Homo sapiens: one gene and its partners. The protein of the gene in region 1 purifies or fractionates together with the protein of each later gene. This does not show direct contact. Each region holds a gene or a part of one and is shown in the gene's direction. Other genes may lie near its edges.

Evidence for each region.
Region 2: the proteins of SENP2 (region 1) and USP28 purify together in Homo sapiens (affinity purification with mass spectrometry; 2 studies listed by BioGRID and IntAct, with this or other methods). This does not show direct contact.
Region 3: the proteins of SENP2 (region 1) and ITIH1 purify together in Homo sapiens (affinity purification with mass spectrometry, with the first as the bait; one large-scale study listed by BioGRID). This does not show direct contact.
Region 4: the proteins of SENP2 (region 1) and KPNA4 purify together in Homo sapiens (affinity purification with mass spectrometry, with the first as the bait; one large-scale study listed by BioGRID). This does not show direct contact.

What each region holds. Positions count from the first base shown.
Region 1 is NC_000003.12:185,609,067-185,614,637, forward strand, and holds part of SENP2 (sentrin-specific protease 2), read left to right. Parts: intron 1-180; coding exon 181-284; intron 285-2,584; coding exon 2,585-2,679; intron 2,680-3,540; coding exon 3,541-3,592; intron 3,593-4,278; coding exon 4,279-4,342; intron 4,343-5,497; coding exon 5,498-5,571. UniProt on the Homo sapiens protein: Protease that catalyzes two essential functions in the SUMO pathway.
Region 2 is NC_000011.10:113,865,573-113,869,072, reverse strand, and holds part of USP28 (ubiquitin carboxyl-terminal hydrolase 28), read left to right. Parts: intron 1-3,500. UniProt on the Homo sapiens protein: Deubiquitinase involved in DNA damage response checkpoint and MYC proto-oncogene stability. Involved in DNA damage induced apoptosis by specifically deubiquitinating proteins of the DNA damage pathway such as CLSPN.
Region 3 is NC_000003.12:52,787,599-52,790,080, forward strand, and holds part of ITIH1 (inter-alpha-trypsin inhibitor heavy chain H1 isoform a preproprotein), read left to right. Parts: coding exon 1-14; intron 15-387; coding exon 388-468; intron 469-633; coding exon 634-747; intron 748-2,054; coding exon 2,055-2,256; intron 2,257-2,482. UniProt on the Homo sapiens protein: May act as a carrier of hyaluronan in serum or as a binding protein between hyaluronan and other matrix protein, including those on cell surfaces in tissues to regulate the localization, synthesis and degradation of hyaluronan which are essential to cells undergoing biological processes.
Region 4 is NC_000003.12:160,520,572-160,524,071, reverse strand, and holds part of KPNA4 (importin subunit alpha-3), read left to right. Parts: intron 1-2,161; coding exon 2,162-2,293; intron 2,294-3,500. UniProt on the Homo sapiens protein: Functions in nuclear protein import as an adapter protein for nuclear receptor KPNB1. Binds specifically and directly to substrates containing either a simple or bipartite NLS motif.

The sequences.
Region 1 (5,571 bases):
GGATTCAGTTGATCAAAGGAGGCTAGATTATTTTTAAAAAATGTATAAAGTTAGTAATTAATTCAAAGAAATATTAAAAACATAGTGCTGGCAAATAAAACACACCTATGGTTTACATTTGGCCTTTTAATTATAAATTTAATGTGCTGGTACTTATCTAACATGCTTTCTTTTATTTAGGGTGTTCAAAAAGAGGAAAGAGAGAAGTACCGAAAGTTATTGGAACGACTTAAAGAAAGTGGTCATGGAAACTCTGTCTGTCCTGTAACTTCAAATTATCACAGGTGACAGTGAGCTAACAGATAATGCTTTGCTAGGCATCTTTTGTTTGTTTGTTTTTGGAGAAAGTATTGGTGGGAAGGGCTTTACTGAAAGAAGAGGTTAACCCTGAGAGAACTAGCTCTGTCATTTGCCTGGATATTTATCTAGTAATGGATAATATGTAACAGTGGTTTTGCAAAGTAAAATTTTATGTTACCTTTAGGACCTTTTGTTCAAGTAAACTTTTACTTGAAACTCTTATATTAAAAAAGTGGATCACTGGTTGAAGTAGGGCTCCCAAGAGGCAGAGAGTTTCTTCAACCTCCCCAGCATACATTTCCCACAATCTCTCTCTCTACCTCCCTTCCCCACCCCACTCCTGCCCCTCTCTCCATTTCTCCCATCTCCCTTCCTTCCTTCCTTTCTCCTTCACCTCCTCCTGGTCTTTCTTTTTGTCTTTTTTCCTTCCCCCTGCCTCACCCCTACCCCATGAGACATACCTAGTCCCTGCGGCATCATAGAGATTGAATCTTAGCACATTTGGAAACCCACTAGAGACAAGATTAAAGTCTCCCAGGTCATAACAATTTTCCTTATAGGACAGCTTGTTAATTAAATAATGATTTAAGCAAATATTAATAGATGAGAGTGGCAGAAGGAAGTGATATTTGGCCTTGTATTTGCCTGTGAAAGGAGGACAAAAAATGTGTGAGCTCAGGATTGAGGTACACTAGGTAATTCTAACAAGTGGTGTGAGAAAACACAGGGATCCCAGAAATTATATAATAGCAAATCGAAGATTAAAAAGTCACAGAATATTATCTAGCTTTTTTTTTTTTTTTTTTTTTTTGAGATGGAGTTTCACTATTGTTGCCCAGGCTGGAGTGCAGTGATGCAATCTCAGCTCACTGCAATCTCCGCTTCCTGGGTTCAAGCGATTATCCTGCCTCAGCCTCCTGAGTAGCTGGGATTACAGGCGTCCACCGCCACGCCCAGCTAATTTTTTGTATTTTTGGTAGAGATGGGGCTTCACCATGTTGGCCAGGCCGGTCTCGAACACCTGATCTCAGGTAGTCCACCAGCCTCAGCCTCCCAGAGTGCTGGGATTACAGGCGTGAGCCACCGCACCCGGCCTACTATCTAGCTTTTGAATGCAGAAATAACAGATTGTTTGCGAATAATCAGTTGTGAACTTTAAAAAAAAATTCTTTTGGTTTAGTCAGAATGTCAGTATTTTCTCCATTTTGACCAGCCATATGTTGGAAACAGCAGTATGTTTAACGAACTCTTAACTTTGTCATGTTGGCGAAACCCTCAAACTATTTTTGCTTTTTAAAGTTGCTGCTTTGGCTGGGCACAGTGGCTCACACCTGTAATCCCAGCACTTTGGGAGGCCGAGGTGGACGGATCACGAGGTCAGGAGATCAAGATCATCCTGGCTAACACGGTGAAACCCCATCTCTACTAAAAAATACAAAAAATTAGCTGGGCATGGTGGCTGGCACCTGTAGTCCCACCTACTCGGGAGGCTGAGGCAGGAGAATGGCGTGAACCCGGGAGGCGGAGCTTGCAGTGAGCAGAGATTGTGCCACTGCACTCCAGCCTGAGCTACAGATCGAGACTCCGTCTCAAAATAAATAAATAAATAATTAAAGTTCCTGCTTCTGGCTGGGTGTGGTGGCTCACACCTGTAATCCCAGCGCTTTGGGAGGCCGAGGCAGGTGGGTCACTGGAGGTCAGGACTTCGAGACCAGCCTGACCAACATGGCGAAACCCCATGTCTACTAAAAATACAAAAATTAACCAGGTGTAGTGGCGTGTGCCAGTAATCCCAGCTACTTGGGAGGCTGAGGCAGGAGAACCACTTGAACCTGAGAGGTAGAGATTTCAGTGAGGCCATGATCACACCACTGCACTCCAGCCTGGGCGACAGTGCGAGACTCCGTCTCAAAAAACAAAAAGTTCTTGCTTTTAATGTATTGTTTCAGGATCCATTTAAATACATAGCTTAAAAAGTTTTTTATCTTTTAATCTGAGTTTTATCACACTGAGATTTTTCAGTTAGTGCATCACTGGGGATTCAGAACCTCTGATTTTACAAACAGAGAAACTGGAGGTTAGGTGACCTGGCTGAAATATTATTAGAATCATGATTAGACTCCTTTTATCCTAGTCCCACATAGTTGCTTCCTTTCTGTTGTAATTTGATATAATAGTGTAATCAATCACCCCTATTTGGAGAAGCTTGCTGGACAGAGATAATGCATATTAATGGTAGACTTTGCTTTTGTATCTGATCTCCCTCACTTTTTGTGTTTCTAAGTTCTCAAAGAAGTCAGATGGACACATTAAAGACCAAAGGCTGGGGGGAAGAGCAAAATCACGGAGTCAAAACAACTCAGTTTGTTCCAAAACAATGTGAGTTCCCAGATTTAGCCTTGTCTTAATATATTGACCTTAGTTCATGCTACAGTGTTCATATGAGGTAGAAAATTGACATTCAAGTGTAGATGGTGTACCAAAATACTGTCAAATCTCACAGCATTGGGCCGGGCGCGGTGGCTTACGCCTGCAATCCCAGCACTTTGGGAGGCCAAGGCAGATGGATCACCTGAGGTCAGGAGTTCAAGACCAGCCTGGCGAACATGGTAAAACCCCATCTCTACTAAAAATACAAAAATTAGCCAGGCATGGTGGCACTTGCCTGTAATCCCAGCTACTCAGGAGGCTGAGGAAGTAGAATTGCCTGAACCTGGGAGGTGGAGGTTGCAGTGAGCCAAGATCACGCCACTGCACTCCAGCCTGGGTGACAGTGAGACTCTGTCTCAAAAAAAAAAAAAAAACCTCACAGCATTGACTGGGGCTTATCTAGGAATTTAGTAGAAAAGCTGTTTCAGGGTGAAGTAGATTCATAACATGGCTCTGGATTATTATTCCTAAGCTGCTAGATAGTAGCAACTATTTTGTGAGCTGAAATTTTATTATATTCCTTATATAACAATTTCCTTATACTTCTCCACTTACTGTCCACTAAATGACAGCTTACCAGATAAGCAGATATCACTCAGTTTATAGTAAAGATTATATTTAAACAGCAAAGATATGTATGCATTTTTTTAGGCAACTTAGTATATAGGGAGGCTAGTGTCTTTGGAATTCACTGTAGCATTTCAATGTAGAGGAATGTCTTGATGTTGTGGAAACTCTGTAAGCTGAAATTCTAACTATATTATTCATCGATGAAGGAAACATTTAATCTTTTCTTTACCATCCTCACAGATAGACTTGTTGAAACAAGGGGACCTCTATGTTCATTGAGAAGTGAAAAGAGGTACGTACATTCAGTTCATTCTACACTTTCTTTTAATATATATTTTCTTACTTTATAAGCTGTATTTATGAGTAAGCAGTTCTGAGGAATTGTGAACTCTCTTGAGTTCTGGTAGTTGGTCAGCATATAGGGTAGATAGGTAGCTAGCTGTTGTGTCAGATGCCCACCCTAGCCTGGTGGGTTGAGGGGGGTGCCCCTTATCTCCCAGGCGTCAGGGGTTGGGAGAAACACATGCTTCTTAGATGGGAGTTTGGTTGGAGTGGGGATGTCTAGTGTCAGTGTCTTTAGGATAGGAACAGTAAAGGCAGCTCTGCATGCTTTAGGATTTTGGGATGATGGTTTATAGCAGAGTTTGTAAACTATGGCCCATGGGCCAAATCTGGTCTACTTGCCTATTTTTGTATAGTAAATTTCTATTGGAACATGCGAATTCATTTACATACTGTCTGGCTGCTTTTAAATTACAGTGGCAGAGTTGCCACGATGTGCCCAAGACCATAAAACCTGCAAAGCCTAAAATACTGTCTGTTCCTTTTCAGAAAAGTTCGTTGACTCCTGGTTTAGAGTATTATGTAAACTCAACACAATTTTTATGTACAAATTACGAAATCTTATTTCTAAAACTAGGATGTACTAGGTTTGAATCATCTAGCAGAAGTCTATCATCTCTCAATTTTTTTCCTTAGGTGTTCAAAGGGGAAAATTACTGATACAGAGACGATGGTCGGAATCAGATTTGAAAATGAAAGTGTAAGTAAAAATCCTAGTTACATTTGATACCTGTTTACTTATGTAACTTATGTTTTGGTGCCCATGAAAAGCAAGAAAAAGTATATATATATAACTTTGATTGTTAATTCTGTTGTTTTTCTTTAAAAAAGCAGCAAGCCAGCCAGTCACAGTGGCTCATGCCTGTAATCCCAGAACTTTAGGAGGCCAAGGCAGAAGGATCACTTGAGCCCAGGAGTTTGAGACCAGCCTGGGCAACATAGTGAGACTGTCTCCACAAAAAAATTTAAAAGTTAGCCAGGCATGGTGGCATGTCTGTAGTCCCAGCTACTTGGGAAGCTAAGGTGGGAGGATTGCTTGAGCCCAGGAGGTCAAGGCTGCAGTGAGCTGTGATCACACCATAGCACTCCAGCCTAGGTGACAGAATGAGACTCTGTCTCAAAAAAAAAAAAAAAAAAAAAGGCAGGAAGCATTGAAAATACACAACTTTTTTCTTCCTTCTGAGTTGTTGGAGTTTTGCCTCTGTACAGTAGCCACCTTTGTTTATGAGAGACCAATCTGCCTCCATACCAACATGTTACCTACATTTTATGGCTTCTTAGGGAGAATTTCTTAAAAATCATACATCTCTGGAAAGAGATGATATGTTCTGGGTTGCTGGCAGAATTCTATTTGTTTACTACAATTGTGGTTATATAGGTGTTCATTCAAATTAAGTGGTACATTAATGTTTTGTGCATTTTCTGTAATATCAAATGACTTTTTTCAAGGATAAACTAGAACCAAGTTGAGTTACTATAAAGATAGTAGGGATTTATTCTGAGTGATGGGATTGTGGGTCATATTTTTTGCTGTTTAAAACTTTCATAATATCTTTTAAACATACTAATTTTAATTGTGATAGGAGAACTGAAAATACTTTTCTTGCTACTTCCAGGGAAGGTGGTGAGTGTTCTGTTTGATGGTTCATAACTGAGGGTCCTGTGAGGCCTAGGTCTGGAGCTTTTTTTGCTCCCCCTTGCAGGGACAGACAGATAGGGTAAATCTACTCACTTGGGGGATTTGCTAATTCTCTTTTCTTTCACATTAGTGGCAGTTTTATATTTCATGTGTAATCTGTGTTTATATTTGCAAGTATCAAACATGTCAGTAGAATTTAGATAATTTTTTGATCAGAGGAGGGGATACCAACTGGAGCCTGACCTATCAGAAGAAGTGTCGGCCCGACTCCGCCTGGGCAGTGGAAGCAA
Region 2 (3,500 bases), on another chromosome or scaffold:
TCATCCTGCCTCAGCCTCCAAAAGTGCTGGGATTACAGGCATGAGCCACCGTGCCTGACCTCAGATGTTAGTATGCCTTATAAGGGCCTCATATGAGATTTATTTTATTTATTCCTTTTCTTTCTTTTGTCTTTTTTTTTTTTTTTTGAGACATGGTCTTACTCTGTCACCTAGGCTGGAGTAGTGCAGTGGCTCTATCATGGCTCACTGCAGCCTCAACCTCCTGGGCCCAAGCAATTCTCCTACCTCAGCCTACAGAGTAGCTGGAACTACAGACATGTGCCACCATGCCTAGCTAATATTTTTAGTTTTTGTAGAGATGGGGGGTCTCTTTATGTTGCCCAGGCTGGTTTTGAACTCCCGCGCTCCAGTGATCCTCCCGCCTGAGCCTCCCAAAGTTTTGGGATTACAGGCGTGAACCATGGTACCTATCTCTTTTTTTCTTTATTCGTATGAGATTTTAAACTGAAGTCTGTTTGCTTCTATCTTACAGATGAGAAATGCAGCTTATGACCATGATTGAATTATAAGTAGCAGAGCTGTGACTTCAAGCCATTCTGACTTGAAGCATAACATTTCTCCGACTTTAGTACAAGCCTTTCTAAAACCAAAGTTTCTGACTTACCACTTGACTATGTAGCACTTTAATAATTTTAATAACTTTTCATTGAACCCTCATAGGCACTCTATGAAATAAAATTTAGTATGAGCAGGAAGTAGAATTTGCAAAGTGACACAGCAAGTAAGTGATAAAACCAAAACTATAACACAGGATATCAGTATTTTTACTGTAAACTCTAGAGGAGTTTAGTTGAACAGGCAAGTCCCAGTATTTTTCATTTCTATTGCATTTCTTCATTTTGCTAACAATTTATTTGCAGTACTTCCTTTGATAGTCATACAGGGCTGTCAAAGCTTTTGGTGTACTTCATTTTCCATTCTGGAAACTGATGCTGAGGAAGATTGAGATTTGCCAGGAGGCTGATGTGTGCTGGAGTCTGGGCTGCATGGCACTATTTCCAGCGTCTAGGCTTTCTACGTAAAACAGGGGTCAAAATATCAGACACACAAAACCAAACTAAAGATCTGCCTCAGTAAGTACCAGCTGCATGCTACATGATGGCTGGTAGGCACTTTAACCCTAAGAAGATTTTCTAAACAACATTTTCTTTTTCAATCTTCTTGCCCAAGTTAGTACTTTCTTGTGTCCCCTCCCTCCCTCCCTTCCTCCCTTTCTTCCTCCCTCCCTTCCTCCCTCCCTCCCTCCCCCCTTCCTTCTTTCCTTTTGTGTGGGGATGTGTATACAGGTTTCCTTATTCATTTGTTTTTTCATAGAGTTGGGGTCTAGCTATGTTGCTCAGGCTGGAGTGCAGTGGCTATTCACAGGCATGATCGTGGTGTACTACTGTTTGAAAATCCTGGGCACAAGTGATCATTCTGCCTCAGCCTGCTGCAGAGCTGGAACTACAGGTGTGTGCCACTGCACCCAGGTGATTTTTTTTTTTTCAATTGAGGCAAAATTTATATAACATAAAATTATTTTAAAGTGGGGCTGGGTGAGGTGGCTCACTGAGGTCAGGAATTCAAGACCAGCCTGGCCAACATGGTGAAGCCCCGTCTCTACTAAAAAATATAAAAATTAGCCAGATGTGGTGGTGAGCACCTGTAATTCCAGCTACTTGGGAGGCTGAGGCAGGAGAATCACTTGAACCCGGGAGGCAGCGGTTGCAGTGAGCGGAGATCATGCCACTGCACTCTAGCCTGAGTGACAAGAGTAAAACTCTGTCTCCAAAAAAAAAAAGTTCAAGTGTACAAGTTCAGTGACATTTAATATATTCACAATATTGTGCAATCACCAATTCCGTCTAGTTCTAAAACATTTTCATTACCCTGAAAGAAAACTTTGTAACCATTAAGCAGTCACTCCCTATTCCCCCATGCCCTCCACCCCTGGCAATACCAATCTACTTTCTGTCTCTAGATTTACGTATTAGAGAGATTTCATGTAAATGGATCATGCAATATGTGACCTATTATGTGTGGCATCTGTCGTTTATTGTAATGTTTTTGAGATTTGTTCAAGTTGTAGCATGTATGAGTTTTTCATTTTAATCACTGAGTAATATTCCACTGTATGTATAGATATGTTTTGCCTGTCCATTCTTCCATTGACGGACATTTGAGTTATTTACACCTTTTGGTTATTATGAATAGTTCTGTTATGAATTTTCATATACTTGTATTTGAGTACCTGTTTTCCCTTCTTTTGGGTATATACCTAGAAGGAATTGTTGACTCATATGGTAATTCTATGTTTAACTTCTTGAGGAACTGCCAGACTGTTTTCCAAGGTTGCTGGGGAAGTTTTATATTCCCACCAGCAATACACAAGGGTTCTAGTTTTTCTCTTTTCTCATCAAACACTTGTTATTTTTTGTTTTTGTTAGATAACAGTCATCCTAATGGGTGTGAAGTGGCATCTCATCATGATTTTGATTTGGCCATGTTAATGTTATGGCTAATGTTAAGTGTCTTCATAAACTTATTGACTATTTATATATCTTCTTTGGAGAAATATCTTTTTAAGTTCTTTGTCCATTTTTGAATTGGGTTGTCTCGTTTTTTGGTTGTTGACTTAAAGGGAGTTCAAAGAGAGTTTTTTATATCATCCAGATGCTAGACTCTTACCAGATAAATGATTTAAAAGTATTTTCTCCCATTGTCTTTTCACTTTCTTGATAATTTGTACACTGTGTATTTCTTTTTTCTTTTTTTTTCCCCAAGACAGAGTCTGGCTCTGTCACCTAGGCTGGAGTGCAGTGGTCTGATCTCGGCTCACTGCAACCTCTGCCTCCTGGGTTCAAGTGATTCTCTTGCTTCAGCCTCCCAGGAAGCTGGGATTACAGGCGCGTGCCAACACACCTGGCTAATATTTGTATTTTTAGTGGAGATGGTTTCACCATGTTGGCCAGGCTGGTCTTGAACTCCTGACCTTAGGTGATCCACATTGGCCTCCCGGAGTGCTCGGATTACAGGCATGAGCCACCGTGCCCGGCCAGCACTGTATATTTCTTGTTGGATTTCTTGATGTATGTGTTTATTTCTTGAATTTGTATACCGGTTGTCTTTTCACTTTCTTGATAATGCCCTTTGATGCAGAAAAGTACATCAGCCCACTTCAGTGTCCCAAGTAGCTGGGACTACAGGTACACACCACCATGCCTGGCTCAAAAGTGTTATTATTTTTTTCTTTTGTTGCTTGTGCTTTTGGTGTCATAGCTGAGAATCCATTGACAAATCCAAGGTCATGAAGACTTATCTCTGTGTTCTAAGAATTTTATAGTTTTAGTTATTTATTTAGGTTGTTGATCCATTTTGAGGAATTTTTGTGTATTGTGTGAGGTAGGGGTCCAGTGTGATTCTTCTGCTGTGGATATCCAGTTGTACCAATACCATTTGTTGAAGACATGATTTTTCCCCCATCAAATGGTGTTGGCACT
Region 3 (2,482 bases), about 130 Mb from region 1:
GGGACCCAGAAGGAGTAAGTGGCAGCCATCCTGGCCATTCACATCTCTACCCCTCCTTGATGATCACCCCGTTGGCTTTCTTCCTCCGTTCTAGCTGTCTTCACTGCTTGTCACTGGGAATCTTTAGAACAGACCTCTGAACAGCCTGGCCTCCCCAGCCTGAGGTCCCTGGGGGAGGAGACAGAGAGGGGGCCAGCTAAACATGCCAGGCCAAGCTTCTGTCCCCGTGTCCCGGGAGCCAATCAAGGGCATGTGATGTTGAGTGGACATCCCTGCTTGGTGGCCTCAGGCCAGCCCCACCAGTGAGGAAAGAGTCATCAGAGGGATCAGCAGCTCCAGGGAAGGCCTGGCTGCCCCGCTTCTAAATGCCACTCCCCCTCCCATCAGCGTTCGTGCTGTCAGCCTTGCAGCCTTCTCCTACTCATTCCAGCTCCAATACCCAGCGGCTGCCAGACCGAGTGACCGGCGGTGAGTCCTTGGAAGGGTCTGAGGGACACCCCTGTTTGGGACCCACCCTATCTGGCTGTCTCTCTCTCTCTGTCTCTCTCTGGGACCTGCCTAGCTGAACCCCAACCCCTGGCCAGCCCCATCTGCCCGATGTCCAATCTAACGAATTCCATGCTGTGCCCCCAGTGGACACAGACCCTCACTTCATCATCCACGTGCCCCAGAAAGAGGACACCCTGTGCTTCAACATCAATGAGGAGCCTGGTGTTATCCTGAGCCTGGTACAGGACCCCAACACAGGTATGGCGGGCATCACACCTCTGCCAGACAGGGCCAGGGCTCCTCTGCCCTCAACATTCAGCCAGGAACAGGACTATGGCCAAGGCCCTCACTGCCCTCTGCCTGGGCACCATCCACCTGGCTGGGCTCTGCCCGCTGCCTTCCCACGCCATCCTCCTGGCTGCACCTACACAGGGCCAGCTTTATCAGCATGTGACTGGGGTAGGCACACAGGGGCTTTTTTTTTTTTTTCTGAGACAGAGTCTTGCTCTGTTGCCCAGGCTGGAGTACAGTGGCGTTATCTCAGCTCACTGCAACCTCTGCCTCCTGGGTTCAAGTGATTCTCCTGCCTCAGCCTCCCAAGTAGCTGGGACTACAGGCGCATGCCACCATGACTGGTTTATTTTTGTATTTTTAGTAGAGATGGGGTTTCACCATGTTGGCCTGGTTGGTCTCAAACTCCTGACCTCAGGTGATCCGTCCACCTCGGCCTCCCAAAGTGCTGGGATTACAGGTGTGAGCCACCGTGCCCAGCCAGTTTAATGCTCTTCCGTTGCCGCCTTGAAACCCTTAACACTTTCTAAACAAGGGGCCCTTCCTTTTTATTTCATACTAGGTCCTGCAAATATGTCACAGTCCTGCCCCACCTTCCCCATGAAGCATGGCTGAGCAGAGCACCTCTCTCCCAGCAGTGCCTTGGTTATGGGGAACAGCTCCCTCTCCTTCTCTCACCCCTGCTCCCTCCTGTCTCCTTCCCTCCCTGTCCAGTTAGTCCATCTGCAAGTGTTTGTTGTGCACCAACGAGGGGCTGGGAATGCAGTGGGAGCCAAGATAGTCCCGCTTTCATAGAGTTTAGGGAAGGGGAAGACAAACAGGTGAACATTCTGAGATGATCATTTCAGAGCATGAGACGTGCTGGGTTGGCAGCGTGAGGGTGGGAAGGGGGCTTTGTGGCTGCCCAGGTCAGCGGAGACCTCTGTGAAGAGGTCCCACAATGCATTTCCAGCACAATGGGAGCCTGTCCCTGTGTGAGGGGCTGGGGCCACAGAGAAGGAGCAGGCTAGGTCCTGTTCTCGGGGAGGCACGACCTCCGTTAGGACCCAGAACTGAGAGCTGAGTATGGGATATTTGGCATGGCAGGAGGGGTGGAGAGGAAGGAGAGGTGGTGCTGTGTGCGGGACCAGACCTGGAGACCCTGAGGCAGGAGACTCTCAAAGACAGAGTGGCACAGGCAGGGCGTAGAGGCCTCTTAGGAAGGAGGCATGATCCTGCTAAGCAAAGGCAGGCAGGCCCCTTCCCAACCCGGATGCCCTCTTGCTCCATTGCAGGCTTCTCAGTGAATGGACAGCTCATTGGCAACAAGGCCAGGAGCCCTGGGCAGCATGACGGCACGTACTTCGGGCGGCTGGGAATCGCAAACCCTGCCACGGACTTTCAGTTGGAAGTGACTCCTCAGAACATTACGCTGAACCCCGGCTTTGGTGGGCCTGTGTTTTCCTGGAGGGACCAAGCTGTGCTGCGGCAGGACGGGTAACCTGCCAGGGCCTGGGCAAGATGCAGGGGGAGGTGTGGCCTGGGCCCAGGACTCTGCTGAGTCTGCAGGGCCCTCGTCCCTGAGCCATGTCTGTGGGTGACACCCATGTGGCCTGTGCAGACATGTCAGACTCCATGGCCCACCCAGCCCTCCATTTCCCTTGGTTACTGGATATGTCCTCTGGGCCCAGCTGCATGGCAACTGTGCTCCCACCGCACCTTA
Region 4 (3,500 bases), about 25 Mb from region 1:
TTTGATCTGAGCATATTAGTGACATGTCCTTTAAAAACATGTATCTAGCTTTTATATACAGTTATGAGCAAGTAACTTGAAATTTTTGGCCTATGTCAACAAATTTTAGCATATGTTAATATTCCAGAAAAGAAACTCAGTTACATTTGCAAATTGAAATTTAGGTTTTTTCACATATATTGATACCATTTTTTTATGTGAATTCTTTTTTTTTTCTTTTTGAGACAGAGTCTCGCACTGTTTCCCAGGCTGGAGTGCAGTGGCATGATCTCCACTCACTGCAACCTCTGCCTCCTGGGTTCCAGCGATTCTCCTGCCTCAGCCTCCCGAGTAGCTGGGTTTACAGATGCCCGCCACCACGCCTGGCTAATTTTTTTGCATTTTTTAGTGGAGACAGGGTTTCACTATGTTGGCCAGGCTGGTCTTGAACTCTTGACCTCGTGATCCACCCACCTTGGCCCCCCAAAGTGCTGGGATTGCAGGCGTGAGCCACCACACCCAGCCTGTGCGAACTCTCATTTGATGTCTTCTTTTTACATTAGAAATATCCTTAGAGCTTTCTTGAATTTCCTAAGAAACAATGGCAAAGCATTATTTTCACCTTTTAGGAGTTTCGGGGTGTCTTTTTGGTTTTTTTTATCTTATTTTTTTATTTTCTCTTGGGTGTCCTAAGCATAACATTAGTTTACAGTTTTACGATTTTTTTAAAGTCAGGGTCATAAAAACAAGAAAAAATAAACAATGCCGAATTGTTTCTGTTTTTCATAGAGACGGGGTTTCACCGTGTTGCCCAGGCTGGTCTGTAACTCCTGGGCTCAAGCAGTCCACCTGCCTTGGTCTCCCAAAGTGCTGGGGTTACAGGCGTGAGCCACTACTCCCTGCCTAGTTTATTGTTTTAAAGGTTTTACACTTCTCCAGCTTGTCTTGACACAGAGTTCATATTCTGGAAAGGCTTTGGAAGTAGTTTTAGGCACAATTATTATTCCCATGTCTTTGTCAATAATTTGTGTATTTATTTGCAGCAGTTACAGTTGTTTGTCATACTGCCCTTTGGTCATAACTTCTAATTAGGACCTAACGTACTAGGAAAGATCAAACACATGGCCTGTTGTACTTAAAGATGTAATCGTTAAAAAAAATGGTAGGCTACTTAGTAGAAGTTGATTACACAGGCTTTTTTTTTTTTTTCATAAGTAGCAGCTGTAGTGAAGTACGTATTTTTTGTTTTAATTACAGGTCTCACAGATTGACCTATGATTATTTTAATGTCTTGATCTGCAGCTGTAGGGGACTTCCACTATTTAAGAAGTTGCTGGCCGGGCGCAGTGGCTTACGCCTGTAATCCCAGCACTTTGGGAGGCCGAGGCGGGCGGATCATGAGGTCAGGAGATCGAGACCATCTTGGCTAACACGGTGAAACCCCGTCTCTACTGAAAAATGCCAAAACTTAGCCAGGCGTTGCGGCATGCGCCTGTAGTCCCAGCTACTCGGGAGGCTGAGGCAGGAGAATGGCATGAACCCGGGAGGCGGAGCTTGCAGTGAACCGAGATCGCGCTGCTGCACTCCAGCCTGGGCGACAGAGCGAGACTCCGTCTCAAAAAAAAAAAAAAGTTGTCTCCAGTTCTGTAAGGCAAAACAAACTGGTTGGAAAAGATTAAAGTATTTTATACTACAATATGAATACTTGGGTTATTGGCTTTAGGCATATCTACATGGTACTTACAATACTAGAGAACTCCTTGAATATATTCATCTAGCCCAGATGTTTTGAACAACTGTGCATGTTGGATACATGTAGTCTTTCCAGCTTTATACATGAGCCACAATGTTTTTGGACCTGTTATCCCTCAGCCTTTGGGAAAGAGAATGTCTTTTTCTCCTGTTTTATGAGCTGTGTAGTGTGCGTGTGTATCTTAGTGAACTAAGATTGGATACTAATCTGGGATCAGAATCCTGAATATGGCTAAAAGATGTACGTCTTAGTACAGACATTTATAGATGATGATGTTTAATACCGTAGCGATCAGATTCCAATGAATTAAACTGAGAGAAGAAAAGAAGGAAGAAGGTAGTTGAACAATTTTAGAATGGTTGTTTGGTCAAGAATTACTAAAATGAGAAAATATTTAAAAGTTGTTTGAATTTTTATTTTATTCATTAGATACTGGTAGACACAGTCTGGGCCCTCTCTTACCTTACTGATGCTGGCAATGAACAAATACAGATGGTAATAGACTCTGGAATAGTTCCTCATTTGGTTCCTCTGCTCAGCCACCAGGAAGTTAAAGTTCAGGTAAGTTTGTTCTTAGTTAAATTATAAGTATTTCTTACCACTAATTGCTTTAAGCATGGCATTCAAAGATGGACAATTTCAGTAGTTTAAAGTATATTCTTAGCATAACAACAAATCTGTGATGGAAAGGGGAAAATAAATAATAAGATGCCATTGTAGATTACTAATTTCTTTTTTTAAGATGGGGTCTCACTGTCACCCAGGCTGGAGTGAGGTGGCGTGATCTCAGCTCACTACAACCTCCACTTCCTAGGTTCAAGGAACATTCTCCCACCTCAGCCTCTTGAGTGGTTGGGATCACAGGCACACACCATCATGTGTAGCTAATTTTTTTCTATTTTTGATACAGTCAGGGTTTTGCCATGTTGGCCAGGCTGCTCTTGAACTCCTGGCCTCAAATGATCCTTCCACCCCAGCCTCCCAAAGTGCTGAGATTACAGGTGTGAACCACCATGCCTGGCCGGATTACTGATTTTTAATGTAGACCAGGGAAGTTCATTATAGCAACATGCATGGCATCTGAAACAAGTATTGACAGACACTTATTTTTTCCTACTCCTCTTCTTTTTGTTCTTCCTCTTTCACTTCCCTACTTCTTTTTTTTTCTTCCTTGCCAACCATCCTTATTTACTCACCTGGCAAGTTTAGTTAACTCTTATCTTCATTGGTGCTGAAATAAGGGTACTCTACTGAAATGTGCTGTTTAGGGACTTTCTAAATTGTTGCTTTTCACTTATTTAAATTTATTTTTTATTGTTTAAATTCTTTCACATAATATTTATCCCAAAGAATTTGCATTTAGAAAGAGCCAAAAACAGAGTGTGAGAAGTTCTCAGAGATATAAGCAGTAGCTGTTAAGCTACAGTTGTAATGGGGGAGACGCAGCAAGCTCCCTCTACCTTTCTGAGGTAAATAGTATATTTTAATCTGCTAATGGCTTAGAATCTGTAAAGTACAATAATCGCATAAGAGAAACCGTTAGTCTGTAGCCTAAGTCATTATGCCTGAACATCAAAATAAACTGTGTGGAGCTGTTTTTAATTTCTCCTGCTCAACCCCTGGAGATTTCTGTTTCAGAAAATATTTCTTAGAAACTTGAGCTTTAAAATGCTCTTCAGGTGATACTGATACATAGTCAGATTAGAGACCCTGTACCTTAAAATTAAAGCACTTTAAAGAAGGAACACTTAGCTAAATACAGAAAGAA